3 linked regions of the Homo sapiens genome follow. The protein of the gene in region 1 interacts with the protein of each later gene in a biochemical or structural test. Each region holds a gene or a part of one and is shown in the gene's direction. Other genes may lie near its edges.

The links. Proteins that work in one complex are often made in the same cells at the same time.
Region 2: the proteins of WBP2 (region 1) and WWP2 form a complex in vitro, tested with the Homo sapiens proteins (4 studies listed by BioGRID, with this or other methods).
Region 3: of the proteins of WBP2 (region 1) and NEDD4, one has a biochemical effect on the other in vitro, tested with the Homo sapiens proteins (6 studies listed by BioGRID, with this or other methods).

What each region holds. Positions count from the first base shown.
Region 1 is NC_000017.11:75,852,311-75,859,671, reverse strand, and holds the start of WBP2 (WW domain-binding protein 2), read left to right. Parts: upstream 1-4,336; 5' UTR 4,337-4,374; coding exon 4,375-4,433; intron 4,434-4,527; exon of another isoform or gene 4,528-4,548; intron 4,549-7,361. UniProt on the Homo sapiens protein: Acts as a transcriptional coactivator of estrogen and progesterone receptors (ESR1 and PGR) upon hormone activation. In presence of estrogen, binds to ESR1-responsive promoters. Synergizes with YAP1 to enhance PGR activity.
Region 2 is NC_000016.10:69,758,343-69,765,334, forward strand, and holds the start of WWP2 (NEDD4-like E3 ubiquitin-protein ligase WWP2), read left to right. Parts: upstream 1-3,989; 5' UTR 3,990-4,049; intron 4,050-6,992. UniProt on the Homo sapiens protein: E3 ubiquitin-protein ligase which accepts ubiquitin from an E2 ubiquitin-conjugating enzyme in the form of a thioester and then directly transfers the ubiquitin to targeted substrates.
Region 3 is NC_000015.10:55,826,419-55,829,645, reverse strand, and holds the end of NEDD4 (E3 ubiquitin-protein ligase NEDD4), read left to right. Parts: 3' UTR 1-2,724; downstream 2,725-3,227. UniProt on the Homo sapiens protein: E3 ubiquitin-protein ligase which accepts ubiquitin from an E2 ubiquitin-conjugating enzyme in the form of a thioester and then directly transfers the ubiquitin to targeted substrates. Specifically ubiquitinates 'Lys-63' in target proteins.

The sequences.
Region 1 (7,361 bases):
GTGAAAATGGTATTTATTTGGCTCACTGGGGCAAACAGATTCATCTTATTGGGAGTCAAGAGGCGACCAGGCGGGGGCGGTGGCTCATACCTGTAATCCTAACACTTTCGGGAGTGTTAGGTGGGCGGATGACTTGAGGTCAGGAATTTGAGACCAGCTTGGCCAACATGGTGAAACCCCATCTCTACTAAAAATACAAAGATTAGCTGGGCGTGGTGGCACGATTCTGTAGTCCCAGCTACTCTGGAGGCTGAGGCATGAGAATTGCTTGAACCCGGGAGGCGGAGGCTGCAGTGAGCAGAGATCATGTCAATGCACTCCACCCCAGGAGACGGGCAAGACCCTGTATCAAAAATAAATACATAAATAATAAATAAAATTATAAACAGAAAAAACAGGTGACCAGTTCAGGGGCTCAGCTGCCCCAGACCTTGCCTGCTGGTATCTGAGGCCAACCTGCACTCCTCCTTAGCGCACCGCTAAGATGTGCTCCAGTGTGGAGAATATGAGCATCATACTGCAGTGAAAAAGAGATCTGGAGACAGGCAGACAGGAGTATGAGGCCAGAGGAGAGGTCTGAGTACTGAGACCTGGGCCCAGGGGAGCCTCCTGCTGCTCACCTGGTTCAGCAATAAACCATTGTTGAAGTCTTCGGTTTGAGTTTTGAGTTCTGGTACGTTCCAGCCCCAAAGTCATGGGAGCCGCCCAGGAAGTGTGTTCACATGGTCATATGTTTTTGTAAAACTTAGAAATTCTGGACATTGTAGCCGGAGCTGGTCAAGCTTGTTATCTCTGCACTGCAACTTCCTCTTCTTGTCATTTCCCCTCCTGTCAGGAGGCCTCACTGTAGCCACAGTATTGTGAATGAATAATTGTGGGGTTGTTTTTTTTTTTTGAGTTAGAGCTTTCCTCTCGTTGCCCAGGCTGGAGTGCAGTGGCTTGATCTCAGCTCACTGCAACCTCCGTCTCCAGGGTTCAAGCGATTCTCCTGCCTCAGCCTCCCGAGTAGCTGGGATTACAGGTGACCGCTACCACACCCAGCTAATTTTTTGTATTTTTAGTAAAGACGGGGTTTCACCACGTTGGCCAGGCTGGTCTCAAATTCCTGACCTCAGGTGATCCACCTTCCTCAGCCTCCCAAAGTGCTGGGATTACAGGCATGAGCCACTGCGCCCGGCCTGTGTATTTTATTTCTTAAAAAGAGCCTCCAGATCACTTGAGTCCAGGAGTTCCAAGGAAGCAGTGAGCTATGATCGCACCTGGGTGACAGAATGAGACCCTGTCTCAAAAAACAAAAACATAAACAACCAAGACAGCCTCCAAAATTGTATAAGCTTCAAGGCCTGGCAAAACCTGAACTTGCTCCTGTCTCCAACGTATTTGGCAAAGGGGTGGGAGAGGGGTGGGCAGGTTGTCCCCATCTTCCCATTTATGGTCCTTAGAGCAGCCAATGCTGCCTGCTCTTTGCTGGGGGGATTTTCCTTTTTTTCTTTTTCTTTTCTTTGAGACAGAATCTTCCTTTGTTGCCCAGGCTGGAGTGCACTGGGACGATCTTGGCTCACTGAAACCTTCGCCTCTCAGGTTCAAACAATTCTCATGTCTCAGCCTCCCTATTAGCTGGGATTACAGGAACCACGCCACCATGCACAACTAATTTTTGTATTTTTGCGTTTTTTTTTTTTTTTTTGGGATGGAGTTTTGCTCTTGTTGCCCAAGCTGGAGTGCAATGGCGTGATCTCGGCTCACTGCAACCTCCACCTCCCAGGTTCAAGGGATTCTCCTGCCGCAGCCTCCCGAGTAGTTGGGATTACAGGCGCGCGGATTACAGGCGCTTACAGGCGCACAACACCACACCCGGCTAGTTTTTGGTATTTTTTAGTAGAAACGGGGTTTCTCCATGTTAGCCAGCTGGTCTTGAACTCCTGACCTCAGGTAATCCGCCGACCTTGGCCTCCCAAAGTGCTGGGATTACAGGTGTGAGCCACCGCGCCCGGCCTAATTTTTGTATTTTTATAGAGATGGGATTTTGCCATGTAGTCCAGGCTGGTCTCAAACTCCTGGCCTCAAGTGATCCACCCACCTTGGCCTCCCAAAGTGCTGGGATTACAGGCACGGCACCAGGCCTGGATTTTGCTTTTCTTTTTCTTTTTTCTGAGATGGAGTCTTGCTCTGTCGCCTAGGCTGGAATGCAGTGGCATGATCTTGGCTCACTGTAACATCTGCCTCCCAGGTTCAAGCGATTCTCCTGCCTCAGCCTCCCGAGTAGCTGGGATTACAGGTGCCCGCCACCATGCCCGGCTAATTTTTGTATTTTTAGTAGAGATGGAGTTTCACCATGTTGGCCAGGCTGGTCTTGAACTCCTGACCTCAGGTGATCCACCTGCCTTGGCCTCCCAAAGTGCTGGAATTTGGCTCACGCCTTTGGCGTGAGCCACAAACCCCGGCCTGCTTTTCTTTTTTAAATTTACATATTATTTATTTATTTTTATTTTATTTTATTTTGAGATGGAGTCTCACTCTGTCACCCAGGCTGGAGTGCAGTGGCGCAATCTCAGATCACTGCAAGCTCTGCCTCCCGGGTTCACGCCATTCTCCTGCCTCAGCCTCCCAAGTAGCTGGGACTACAGCCGCCCGCCACCACGTCCGGCTAATTTTTTTTTTTTTTTTGTATTTTTAATAAGGGGTTTCACTCTGTTAGCCAGGATGGTCTCGATCTCCTGACCTCGTGATCCGCCCGCCTCGGCCTCCCAGAGTGCTGGGATTACAGGCGTGAGCCACGCGCCCGGCCTAAATTTATATTTTAAACGCACATAGGAAAAAAAAATTAAACAGTACCAAAGAGTACAATGCATACTGACATACCGAGTCACCAATCCACCCCAAATTCCTAGACCCATGTCTCAAAAATGCCACAGACATTTTCTGATGGATCTTTGCAAAAATTTTCTATCTAGATCCTATTTTTTATACAAATACAACTATATGTATACAGCATTCTGTGCTTAATAACCCTTGATGATCTTCCCATATCAGCACATAGTCTGACTTAATTCTTTTTAAAGACTGCAGAGATTGCAGGCGCCAAAATACATCTAACCATTGGGGCAGATTTCATTATGACTATCCTTAACCCACTGTACTTGTCCCGCAAGGTCCAACCTGGTATTGCACAGGACCTCACAGAACGCTGCTGTTTCCTGATCTTTTCTAGTGAGGCAGCTTTGTTTCTTCACATAGGAGACCTCCCTGGAAAGCGAAGTCAAGCAGGTGGATCTAGAGGTTGGCCACCACAGTCAGGAAAGCAGCTGTCTACTGAAAAGCAAACTCTAATTCCTTAACATTAACGAGTACCGGAACTACCACGTGGGAAGTGCAGCCCCCTCTCTCCGCCTCACGGATTCAGCTCGGAGGTGCAGGGGTTTGGTGGGGGGCGGTTAGGGAATGACAGCTGCCCCGTGGAGGACGCCCAGGGCTGGGTCACGAGCTGACAGGAGTCAGCCTTATTCTGTAAATCCTAGTTATCAGGATGCCGGTTTCGCGCCGTGCCCAGTCCCACTCAGCCTTCAGTCTTCCGGCCGGGACCCCGCTGGGCGCTAAGGGGGGAGCGGCGCCACCGCGAGGCCGGAGAGGGGGCTGCGAGGGGCGCCCGGCCGGCCTGCGAACGTGGTGGGAGCCAGGCGGGGCACACGGCCTCCCCTTCCCATGAGGGACTCTCCCCGCCCCCCGGGCTCAGCGCTGGGAGTGGTGAGATGGATGGCGGGGTGATCCGACGCCGCCAGCCCACCGCGTCCCCAAGAGCCGGGGCCTCCGGCTCAGCTAAACGCCCCAGAGTCACGCATGCGCCCCATAAACGTCTGCTGAGTGAACGAAAGCTCCCCATCCACAAGGGGACAGCTCGGCGCTCCCACGCCATGTCCAGGTCGCATTCGACCAGCAGGACTTCCCTTAACGCGCTGCCGGAGTCCCCAAGATCGCGCCCCTGCCAGGAGCGGAACTGTTTATTTCCGTCCGGCTGAAGAGGCGGGGTGGGGATGGCACAAGCCGATTGGTTACGCAAAATGTGGAACCAATTCAGGCCTATGATCCAGGAGACTACAAGTTCCAGAATGCATCCTTCCTCCAGCATAGGGACAGGCCGAGGCTGCGGGGGCGTTGCCTGCTGGGAATTGTAGTCTTCATCTTGTTTGTTGCGCAGGAGGAACTGGAAGGAGGGAGTAAACTATTACCACGTGACGTTCGGGTCAGGTGTTTGGGCCAGCCTCCGCACTCGAGCTTTGATTGGCTGACTCTAATAAGAAGACGCCACTAGGGGCGGGGCGAAGAGGGGCGCAAGCTCATTGCGTTTTGAGTCTCGGGACCCCTGTTGGAGAGACTATGGCGCTCAACAAGAATCACTCGGAGGGCGGCGGAGTGATCGTCAATAACACCGAGAGGTGAAAACACTGCGGAAGGATCCTGGAGGACCAAAGTTCGGGTGTCGAGGAAGTGGGCGGTGGGTGGTGGGTGGTGGGGAATAAGCCCCTGAAGAGGGAGCACTGATGGAGTGAGGTTGGTGGGGAACGGCTGGGGGCGGGGTTGGAGGAAGGTGGGTGGGCCGTGGGGGAGAGCCCGGGAGGTTGTGATCAGCTGGGAGGCGGGGGTGGGACGTCTGCATGGGGACCTGGTATGGGGCCCCCGGTGGGGCCTAGGGGTGATTCTTGAACCCCTTCCCAGACTTGTGATTTCAGTAGCTGGGAGGAGCCCCAAACAAAAATAATTGTCACTTATTGGATGTCTACAACGTTACTACGTGTCAGGCTCTGCGCCTTTTCTACCTTATTTAATAAATTCTGTGCAGTATAATCTACTACTGTCCACATTTCACAGGTAGGGAAAGTGGAGGGCAGAAAGGTTAAGTAACTTGCCCGAGATCGCAACTGTGTAAGTAACAGAGGTGGTAATTCCAGGAAAGGAGTCTTGACTCCAAAGTTAATAGGATTAACCACCAGCATACAGGCTTCCAGTATGTTCCAGAACTGTTCAGGTTCCCGGTAAAAAACTGAGGTCCCAGAGGTGAAATTAAACAGATGACGTTTGTCAGGTGTCTAACAGTTCCTGGCACTGTGTGGGTCCGTAGTCATTCCCTTGCCTCTCTCTTGAATGCCTGTTGGTTTGGGTCACCTCGGAAGGCAGAGCTCTCCTAATTCAAGGTTCTTTCCACTCCATCCTCCCCACCCCTTGCTCATTGCATCCTGTCTCTCCTCCAGTCTCTGCCAAGAGAAGCCTTAAATGGCCTCTGTCTCCTTTTGTTCCTTGGGTATTGAAAATCAGACCAGCCAGCCCTGGGTTGAACTATGCCGACCCTGAATTGCCTCTTGAAGGCAGAAGGAGCTTAGGAGGCACCTGAGTCCCCAAAGGAGACATCGTGGAGTCAGAGCCCTGTACCCAGCTAAGGCCAGCATCCAGCTGCCCTGTGACTTGGGAATGTTTGATGAGTCAGAGGAAAATGCCTAGAGTGACCCAGCATGCTCACTTTCCCTCTATCTTACCCGCTCAGAGTTTCATGGGCCCAGCCTGTTGCTGGTAATTCCTTCTTTTCTCTGAGCAGTACTTCTCTTCTCTTTTTTTTTTTTTTTTTTTTTTTTTTTTAGATGGAGGCTTGCTCTGTCGCCCAGGCTGGAGTGCAGTGGCACGATCTCAGCTCACTGCAACCTCCGCCTCCTGGGTTCAAGCGATTATCCTGCCTCAGCCTCCCCAGTAGTTGGCATTACAGGCACCCGCCACTACACCCAGCTAATTTTTTGTATTTTTAGTAGACATAGGGTTTCACCATGTTGGGCAGGCTGGTCTCGAACTCCTGACCTCGTGATCCACCCTCCTCGGCCTCCCAAAGTATTGGGATTACAGGAGTGAGCCACCGCGCCCAGCCATTTTCCTTTGCTTATACCAGTTGTTTCCCACTTACCCTTCCCCAGTCAGAGAAAGTTGTGATATATGGGGGGAGGCAGAAGACAAACAGAACCGTGTGAACCTTTTTATCATGTAATCAGAGACACCTCACACTGTTTTGTTGCATCTCTGTGTGTGAGTCAGTTCCCAGGCCTGGCCAGCTTTTCGTGCCATTTGGCAACATCTCTGGGGACTGTTTTTCTTTCTGTCTCTGTGGAACTTTCTGAGACAAGAATGTATCTATCCTGCTCGGCCTTCTACCTGGCTTAGGGCTCAGTCCTGCTAAGTAAGGTGTGCCTTCAGCCTGCTGTTTTAGAAAGTGCTTCAGCCTGCTGTCTGAAAAAGTTGTATCTATAACAATTGAAGTGTTAAGTCCAGTGTCCAAAATTTGATAATTAGGCTGGGCATGGTGGCTCACGCCTGTAATCCCAGCACTTTGGGAGGCTGAGGTGGGTGGATCACTTGAGGTCAGGAGTTTGAAACCCGCCTGACCAACATGGTAAAACCTCGTCTCTACTAAACACAAAAAATTAGCCAGGCGTGGTGGCGCATGCCTGTAATCCCAGCTACTTGGAAGGCTGAGACAGGAGAATCGCTTGAACGCAGGAGGTGGAGGTTGCAGTGAGCTGAGATCACGCTATGTTGCACTGCAGCCTGGGCAACAAGAGTGAAACTCCGTCTCAAAAAAATAAAAAATTATAATTAAAATAGTGAACGTTACTCTTCAAGTCGTGAACTCCTTTGACAATGATGAAAGCTGTGGACTCTCCTCCCAGAAAAATGCACATATGACATACGTGATCATCTCAAGGGCTTCATGGACTTTCCTGCAAACCCCGCTTAAGAACCCAGGTTTAAAAGAACCCCGAAGGACGTCCTATTGTGATCTGTACAGTCATCTCTTAGACATGTTTATATTTTAGGCTTGAAAAACAAACCAGCAAAAACAGAACATCTATCACAAGGACTTAAAAGAAAATAGAAGAGTTGGCCGGGCGCAGTGGCTCACGCCTGTAATCCCTGCACTTTGGGAGGCCGAGGCAGGTGGATCACGAAGTCAGGAGATCGAGACCATCCTGGCTAACACGGTGAAACCCCGTCTCTACTAAAAATACAAAAAATTAGCCAGTCGTGGTGGCGGGCGCCTGTAGTCCCAGCTACTTGGGAGACTGAGGCAGGAGAATGGCATGAACCCAGGAGGCGGAGCTTGCAGTGAGCCGAGATCACGCCACTGCACGCCAGCCTGGGTGACAGAGTGAGACTCCGTCTCAAAAAAAAAAAAAAAAAATAAAGAAAATAGAAGAGTTAAGCCAGATTATCTAACTTGCTTGAGGGATGATGGCCTCTTCAGAGCCCTGTAGCTCTGCTACCATGTTGATCATTTGGGGGCTTTATAAGCGGGGTTTGGGAAATTTTACAGAACCCCCAACCTG
Region 2 (6,992 bases), on another chromosome or scaffold:
GGATTACAGGCGTGAGCCACCGCGCCCGGCCAAGATAGGTACTGTTTTACAGACAAGGGATAGCTAACTAAAGCCACTAGGTGTAGCTGACATGGTCAGTAAGTGGTGAAAATAACGTAACACCCAGACAAACTGATTCAGAGCCACTTTTTTCTCTCTTCTCTTCTTTTTTCTTTCCTTTCCTTTTCTCTCTCTCTCTTTCTTTCTTTCTTTCTTTTTTTTTTTTTTGAGACACGGTCTCTCTCTGTTGCCCAGGCTGGTGTGCAGTGGCATGATCATAGTTCACTGCAACCTTGAACTCCCAGGCTCAAGTGAGCCTCCTACCTCAGCCTCTCGAGTAGCTGGCACCACAGGCCCACACCACCATGCCCAGCTAGTTTTTTCATTTTTACTTTTGTAGAGATGAGAGTCTCATCATGTTGCCCAGGCTGGTCTGAAACTCCCAGGTTCAAGCAGTCCTTTAGCCTTGGCCTCCCAAAGTGCTGGGATTACAGGTGTGAGACACGGTGCTGTCCCTGAGCCACCTAATTATCCATTCTGTTATACTGACTGCTGCTTATGTGCCTTCACTTCATTTTGAGCAACGTGGGGCCAGAGTCTGTCTAATTTGTCTTAATAGTCTCACCCCACCTCCCTAAGCAACACACATAATTTGGTAGCAAATAATTCCTTGCTGAATTGAACAGAAGGTGTATTTAGTGACTTCTACGTTTCCTTGCAAATCTGAAATTTTATGATTATAAGATCCGGTGAATTTTGCTGAATGTCGACTTGGGTCTTCATGCAAACTTTCTTCATGAAGTCTTCACGCCAGCTGGATTCCTCAATTGTCATTTATCTGTCCTACCCCAAAAATCCTTCAGTGCTACTGAATATTGCCTTTCAGCAATTACCCAAATTCAGTCTTTCTCTTTTTTTGGGGTGGCGGGAAGGGGACTGAGTTTTGCTCTCGTCGCCCAGGCTGGAGCACAGTGGTGCGATCTCAGCTCACTGCCACCTCTGCCTCCCAGGTTCAACAATTCTCCTGCCTCAGCCTCCTGTGTAGCTGAGATTATGGGTGCCCGCCACCACGCCTGGCTAATTTTTGTATTTTTAGTACAGATGGGGTTTCACCATATTGGCCAGATGGTCTCGAACTCCTGATGTACGGTGATCCACCTGCCTTGGCCTCCCAAAGTGCTAGAATTACAGGCGTGAGCCATTGCACCTGGCTCAACCTTTCTCACCACTCAGTCTCTTCATTATCTAGAACGTGCCTGTGCTACCTGCCGTAACAGAGTATGGCTGGAGGCTATTTCTCATTTTCTAGTTTATCATATCAATTTTTTTTTTTTGAGACAGAGTCTCACCCTGTCATCCAGGCTGGAGTCCAGTGTGCAATCTTGGCTCACTGCAACCTCCGCCTCCCAGGTTCAAGCGATTCTCAAGCCTCAGGCTCCTGATTAGCTGGGACTACGGGTGTGTGCCACCATGCCCAGCTAATATTTGTATTTTTTGTAGAGATGGGTTTTCACCATGTTGCCCAGTCTGATCTCGAGCCCCTGACAGTCTGATCTGCCCGCCTTGGCCTCCCAAAGTACTGGGATTACAGGTGCCAGCCACCGCACCCTGTCAGATTTTATTCTTTTAATGTGCAGTGTGTGCTCTTTGCTTGTCCCTTCTCCCCTTTGGTGAACACTTACTCAGATGCCACTAAATCTTTTCTGCAGGGTTGTTAAAAAAAAGCAACAAAAGATAAAAAATGAAATATGAAAGAAGAAAACAAACCGAAACCAACAAATGCTAGTAAGTCAAGGAAATAGTCTCTAATTTATCTAGAACAGAATTAGTAAAACTGCCATCAATGGAACTGGAGAAGTTTTAGTTATAGTAGTTTTATAAATGAGACTAATATAGGGTTTAATGTACAAAGACAGGACTGTATCTCCTTGAAAGTTAATCTCTTGGATTTGGAGTGGTACTACAAAAAGTAGAGACTAAGTGTTCAACCTATTTATTTATTTAGATACAGAGTCTCACTCTGTCGCCCAGGCTGGAGTGCAGAGGCGTTATCATGGCTCACTGCCACCTCCGCCTCCCGGGTTCAAGCAATTCTCCTGCCTCAGGTTCTGGAGTACCTGGGATTACCCGCACCCGGACCATGCCCGGCGAATCTTTTTTTTTTTTTTTTTTGTAGTTTTAGTAGAGATGGGGTTTCACCAGGTTGGCCAAGTGGGTTTCGAACTCCCGACCTCAGGTAATCCACCTGCCTCTGCCTCCCAAAGTGCTGGGATTACAGGCGTGAGCCTCCACGCCCCACCAGCCAATTTAATTTGTATGCATGATAGAATCCATCCCAATTCGAAGACCCAAAAATAACAGATTAGTACAAGTCTTTGAGGCTAATTACGTCATTAGTATTAATTTTAATCAATGGTGATTAAACTGAGCCTTCATTCAACTTGTCCAGAACATCAGTCAAGAATGTCTATTTAAAATGTTCTTGGAGGCCGGGCGCATTGGCTCACGCCTATAATCTGAGCACTTTGGGAGGCCAAGGCAGGTGGATCATCTGAGGTTAGGAGTTTGAGACCAGCCTGGCCAACATGGTGAAACCCCATCTCTATTAAAAATACAAAAATTAGCCAGGCATGGTGGTGGGTGCCTGTAGTCCCAGCTACTCAGGAGGCTGAGGAAGGAGAATTGCTTGAACCTGGGAGGCAGAGGTTGCAGTGAGCCAAGATTGAGCCACTGCACTCCTGCCTGGGCTACAAGAGTGAAACTCTGTCTCAAGCAAGCAAATAAATAAATAAATAAATAAATAAATAAAGTTATTGGGCAGGCACAGTGGCATTCGCCTGTAGTCTCAGCTACTTGGGAGGCTGAAGCAAGAGGACTGCTTGAAGCTGGGAGTTCGAGCCCAGCCAAAGCAACCTATCCAGACCCATCTCTTAAAAAAAATATTTCTCTGCCAGGTGCGGTGGTTCATGCCTGTAATCCCAGCACTTTGGGAGGCCAAGGTGGGCGGATCATTTGAAGTCAGGTGTTCGAGACCAGACTGGTCAACATGGAGGAACCCTGTCTCTACTAAAAATGCAAAAATTAGCCAGGCGTGGTGGTGCACGCCTGTAATCCCAGCTACTCGGGAGGCTGAGGCAGGAGAATTGCATGAACCGGCGAGACGGAGGTTGCAGTCAGCTGAGACTGCACCACTGCACTCCAGCCTGGGCGACAGAGCGAGGCTCCATCTCAAAAAAAAAAAAAAAAATATCATCTATCTATCCACCTACCTACCTACCTACCTACCTGGATTATAATTCATTAAGTTCTCTGTGCCCTGTAGTTGTAGATTAAGGGAATGCGATTGGATTAGTGTGGAGGGGCTTTTTATGGAGCCAAGCAGGAGTTTTTAAGCTTTTGTACTTTTGCTTCATGTCACAAGGACAGATGCCCCACAAAGGCTGAGATGTTTGTGGTCCTGGATCTTAGAACAGTGCCTGGCACATAATAGGCATAAGGTTGCCAGGAAATAGAAATACAGATACTCAATTCAATTTGATCTTCAGATAATCAAAAAATACTTTTTTTAGTATAAATATGTCCCATTCTGTATTTGGGACATACATATTACACTGTTGTTTATCTGAAATTCAAATTTAAGTGGGTGTCCTGTACTTTATCTGGCAACCCTACTAAAGGAGCTCAATTAAGTATTTGCTGACTTAACAGTCTGAAGGTCTCGTTTCACCTGTAAAATGGGGCTAGTACCTGTCCCTGCCTCTATAAGGTTGATGGGCAGAGTAGGTGGCATTCAGTGAGCCCTCAATTTATTTGATTGCCTGGGACCATCCGGTGAGCAGAAACCCTTCCACTTTCAACTACAGAGACGATAAAAAGGCCTCCTCGAGGCCAGAGGTGCCCAGGCCAGGCCTAGGTGGCCCGCACCTGCGAGCCTGGCCAGCCTCTTCCGGGTCAGGTGACCGCGCGCGGTCACGTGACCCGGCCCGAGTGCGGGCGGTGGAAGGCGGAAGTAGGAGAGGAGTTCGGCGCCGCTTCTGTGGCCACGGCAGGTAGCGAGCGCTGGCGCGGGGGGCGCGGTGGGCTGGCTGCCTGCACGGGGCGGGCCGGGGGCGGCGGGCGGCGCGGGGTGGGCCGGGGGCGGCGCGGCCCGGGCGTCGGGGGGCGGCGGCTTCCTGTGGGAGGGGCCTGGCGCGGCGGTTCCGGCCTCCGAGGAGGGGTGTCCCGGCTCCCGCCCGAGTGGGGTGGGCGCGCCGCGGCCCGCGCGGGGGTTGCTCCGAAATGGGTGCCCCGGCCGCCAAGGGTGCAGCTGGAGCGAGTCCTCCCGGAAGGGGAGAGGAGCTTAGGTTCCCAGGCATGGAGAGGAGCGATCTTTGTGGAGGGATCGGGACCAGGGGAAGGGGCGACTTGGAACTGAGCTGGAAGGGGGTGCCTGAAAATGGGTTTATGGCGTGGAGCCAGAGGGAAAAAGATGCTGCCTGGACCCCCTCTGAGAGTCTCTCCCTTCCTTCCTGTTTGGAAATGATTGTTACCCGAGACTTTGATGACGGTCCCATTCAGTTTTTAAACTTCAGGAGGGATCACAGAATCTTGATCGTCTTGCTTCCCTCGCGCCCACTTAGTCCTGCGTGGGTAGGGTTTCCACTTCTTGGGAGCCTAGCCCTTCAGCTCATTTTTCTTTGAGATTTTCCCTGAACGGGCCATCATCGAGGCTTTAAAAAACAAAAAAAGAAAATAAATTAAAAAAATAAGTGTGGGCACTTTGCCTGTAAAATGGCTTTTAGCTTACACTGTTGACCTAGCCCAGCGTTACCTCAGCAACATAGTGACTGCTGAAATCTTGGACAGAGAAGTGTCTACCTAGACTGCTTTATGACTTTTCTCTTTCTTCCGTTTAAATTATTCAGTTTCCCTTAGCTTATCTTGTGACTGCTTATCTTGACGAACTGTAACTAGGTAGGGTGCCTGAGAGGTCTGTGTTATGTTCCTTAGAACTGTGACCTGGATCATGATTTTGAGATTGAATACTTGTGTTAAAGCCTGTTCATCTTCCTGTTTCTCATGTTTACTAAAATTTGCAGAAGCAAAAGGAGTTTCATGAGTGCAGTGTAACTGGAACGAATGTTCAAACTGGACATTCACAGCAGCCAGCATCGTTTTGGGTTACAAGTAGGAAAAAGTACTTTCCTAATGTATTATGAGTTCAAGTTTTTGGAGTTATTTGACAAACATTTAAAAATTAGTTTTTGCAGCAGCGCCTATGAGTGAGGTTGGGAAGATGTATTCTCATTTCACAGGGAACAAACAGACTTACGAGAGACGACTTGATTTTTTAAAACAATTTATTGCTCTTTCTTGTTTGCTGGCCTCTTCCTGCTAGATTGCAAATCCTTCAAGGGCAGGTTTCATATTTTATTTGGCTGCTAGCCTAGTGCCTGGCATGTTGTGAGCACTTGATAAATATTTGGTGAATAAATGCATTTCTAAAAGTCACACCGGCGTAAGTGGTGACAAAGGATTTGAACCCAAGTCTTCTACTCTTTTTCTTGTCAGAGAAGCTTGTGATTATCTGTGTCATTGGTCCATATGAAAACAGGCTCGAGAGAAAGGCTTGGATTGGCTTCTCAGTCTCTTTCACTTCATGATTACTTTCCCATTTACAAAGAGCGTATACCAACATCTCACTTAACCTTCCCTTTGAAATTGGGATGGTCAGTATTGTCCCTATATCACATGAAGAGACTGAGGCTTAATGAAGTCCTTACTTTAGATTTCAGAGCTAGTAAATGAGTAGGGACTCAAGCCCAGACCCTTAATCCTTAGATCCATTCTTTTTCATTTATTGACACAATAGAAAATTTTATTTTTATTTTATTTTGAGACAGGATCTTACTCTGTTGCCCAGGCTGGAGTGCAGTGGCACAATCACGGCTCACTGTAACCTTGACCTGCCTGGGCTCGGGTGATCCTCCCATGTCTGCCTCCCAAACAGCTGGGACTACAGGTGGGTGCCACCTCGCCTGGCTAATTTTTGTAGAGACAGGGGTTTTGCTATGTTGCCCGGGCTGTTTTCAAACTCCGGGGCTCAAGCGATCCTCCCACCTCGGCCTCTCAAAGTGTTGCAATTACAGGTGTAAGTCACCATGCCCAACTGAAAGTTTTATTTTTACATAATTTTTCAGGAATAAAAAGTGTAACATTTTAAGGAAAAAGATCACACAGAAAAAGTTGTGAATGTAGAATGTGAGTAAATGAAGTTTAGAAAACGCTGTACTCTACCATAGCTTCCTCTTCCTGGGAAAACATTCTTTCATTCAGTGAATATTTATAAGTACCCACTCTGTCTTTGCCAGGCATTGTTGTAGAGTCCAGTATGGTGTACACTAGCCACATGGGGCTGCTGAGCACTGGAGCTATGCTGTGAGCATAAAATACATTCTGGATTTTGAAGACTTAGCATGAAGAAAAGTAAAATGTCTCATTGATACTTTTTATGTTATAGTAAACGATCATATAATGTATAAACATGTATGATAACATTTTGGATTTATTGGGTTAAATACAACGTAATTATAAATAGTTGGTCAGACATGGTGGCTCATGCCTATAATTCCAGCACTTTGGGAGGTCAAGGTGGATAGATTGCTTGAGCCCAGGAATTTGGGACCAGCCTGGGCAACATGGTGAAACCCTGTCTCTACAAAAAATACAAAAATTAGCCAGGTGCAGTGGCGCCCGCCTGGCTACTCAGGAGGCTGAGGTGGGAGGATCACCCAAGCCTGGGGAGGTGGAGGCTGCAGTGAGTTGTGATCGTGCCACTCATTGCACTCTAGCCTAGGTGACAGAGTGAGACCCTGTCTCAAAAAAAAGAAAAAGAAAAAGAAAAAAAGTTTCACCTTTTTGTCTTTTTTTTTCCCACTTAACCTTGACTTGAAACCCAGCACTTTTTTCTTTTTAAAATGTATTTCCTAGAAAAATAAAAAATTATAAATGTG
Region 3 (3,227 bases), on another chromosome or scaffold:
ACACCTGGCTTTAGAGTTCACACAATAGGATATAAGTCCTGTATGACTTAAATAGTGAATTTTGTCCTTAACATTTACCTCTTGTATAGTATCTGCCAGGCAGTTTTTTCTTAAACTACTGAGATGATAACTGTGAAATATTTGTGATACGTGTCATGTGTGAAAAGTTTGATGCATTTTGAGATGGAAAACTGAAATTTGGAAAAAGAAATACTTTACTATTGAGTAAACTACAATATATTTAGTGCTACTCGCAGCTATTTATTATTTTGTAGACCTGCCTTATGCACCTTACTGCCTAGATTTTTGGGAAAAAACTTTGGAAAGTGTGTTACCTATATTTCTAGCCAACTAACTCACAGAAAAACTGTTTACTTCTTCACTTTCGAAGTATTTGGCTTTTGTTAATATGCAGTTTTACTAAACAGATGGTTCATAAGACATGTGAAGCAAATTCATATTTGCAATGGGTAAAAAGTATTAAAGCCTTTCTCTTGCCTGCATATCCTATTGACCATTGGTATAGTCATCACTTTTTCATATTTTAGTGTAGTTAGAAGAATTCCTTCTTCAAACATTAAAGATCCACAAAGCAGTATTTCTAAATATGCCTTGAAGAACTAAATGAAGTGTATAGCACTTGCCTTTACTAGATATTCTTTACACTTGTACAATTATGTAGTAAATGTATGTTTACAGGGTTTATCATGTTTACAGATTAAGCTAATTTCTGTAGTCGCATTTTTATATTTTTAGTATCACTCTAGTAAAAAAACCAAATAATTTGTTTAAAATAACCAAAGAGTTGTTATAATGCATAATTTGTATTAAATTTATTACTATTTCTTATGCCTTTTAAAATACTGTTTACTATGAAGACAATGTTTTTAATTACAAATCCAGAATTCTGTAGGCAAAATGCTACAGTTCATATCTTCCTTTAACCAAACTGAAGTACATAAAGACCATGTACATGTATTCATCAAACGTTTATTGAATGCTGCGTGCCTAGCGCTGTGCTATGCTCTGGGGTAAGAGTTGTCAGCTTCAGAGAAGCTGAGTCCTGATCCTCAAGGAACTTGCAAATGTGTCTATGAATTTGTAAAACAATCAAAAGTAGGCGTAAGCAGAATAAGGCAAAAGGGAAAGTGTTCTAGGTTCCAGCACACCTGCAAAGATAAAGTGTGCCAAGACTGTATTTATATTTCATACTTATATTGTTTCATCCTTATATTGGAATGATTATATAGAAAATGCTCTTAAAAAGATTAAACCTATTTCTCAGTATGGTATCTTGGTGATTTAGGAATAATTGTAAATATATGTTACGAATCTTCTTAAATATATATATATACACACCCTGTGAGAACTGTAAAAAGTACCTCTGGTTCTTGGTTTAAGTTTGTTGGGGTATAACATGATGAGTACTCATTAGCACCTGATAGAAATCTGAAATGTGACAGTAGCAAAACCACTTTCTACTTTCCAAACACCACAGCATCAGCATGGTTTAGGGGAAGCAATTCACAGATTAATGTACCCTGCGTTTTGTCTTCACCATTGTCAACCAGCAGTCAAGGATGAGCACCAGGTATAGTCCTGGTTTGATATCTCACCAGCCATGTGAACTGAAGCAGCTTACTTAACCTCTCTGGATTCATATTTCTTCATCTGTCAAATGAGAGTAATCATGCCCACCCTCATTGTCATGCCAGATTGTCAGAAGTTCCAGACAGATGAGAAAGCAAAAAGTACTTTGTAAAGTGTTATACAATCAGAAGGTGCTTTGTGCTGACCGTCAGATTGTGTCAAGTCAGGTGTGCAAATTGACCACACTCCCAAAGAATCATTTAAAAGTAAAGTGACTTCTAAGAGACAAGGAAGTAGGAACATTTCTGATATTAAATATATAAATAATATGGATACACATGTGTATATCTGTATATGGATCTTACCATCATAATTCATTTTCTTCATATCAGCAAAGTAATAGTAATGTGGGCCAATGCATTTTGGAAATGTCCTCATTATGTAGAATGGAATGTGAAAATTATTTTTGTTAAAACAGGATTTTGCCACAATTATTTAAATATTATGTTTGTGAACTATCTAAGCATGAGAAAATACAAAGCTTTCTTTGTATCTGGCTGATACTCATTTGGATGATTCTGTGACTCATAGAACATGATGTTAAATGAGACCAGACTCAACTGCCACCAGTCCCCAGCTGCAGACCTTCATCCCCTTCATCTCCCACTAGGGGCTCGTGGTCTGGAAGAAACATCTATCAAGCAACACAGCCCCTTATCCCAGATAGAAAAGTGTCTCAAATGCATTCTACTGCGGGACAGTCAGTAGGATCATTTTCATAAAGCAAGGACATCATATGTTTCTAGAAATTACAAGCATATAACTTTAGCCTACAATCTCTTATTAAAAATTTTTAACAAAATTGTATTACAAATGCATTTCATCAGAACTCAAATTTAAATGGTGTTTGTTTTGGGTTTTTATTTATAATGCTGAAGTTATTCCATATAAGTATCAAGTTAAACACAATTCATTTTGATTATAAACTATTTGACTTTTTAAAATCTTCTGACACAGTAAATATATATATCAAGATTGATGTATCAAAATTTATTGCACACTTTAAAGTGTAAAATCATTTTTTAAAATCTTGAATCCACAAATAAAGTTCTATTCTGATTTTAAAAAACAAAACAAAACTGTGGTTCATTATAAAATAGGAGTGTTTCCAAGTCAGTATGCTGGGTGATGTCTTCTGGTCTAGTTCCTCACAGCAGCACGTTAAATTTTCAGTGCAATCCTAAACTTATTACCTGATGAACTAACATGATTATAAACTCTCAACCACAGATAATTAATTTCCACTTTACAAAAAGGTCGTATTGCATAAGTCTGGTTGTTAGTGAAATAGCCAGAAGATAAAAATAATAGCTAAAAATGGACTGGATTTCAGGCACCTTGCTGCTCATCAAAGAAGCCATTCTTGTAGCCAACCACTATTTACAACATCATTTCTATGAGAAAAAGAGTTCGGAGTGTTAATTCAGAACGAAGTGTCTTTTCCTCCTTCCTCTCAGGCATGAGAATTAGTTTCCCAGTTAGAAGGGAATCCACTCCCACCCACTCAAGCCAGCCTGGGAAGGTGCTGTTCCAGCCCCCTGTTTCTGCCATAATCCAGGCCATAGCTTTTAATTTTG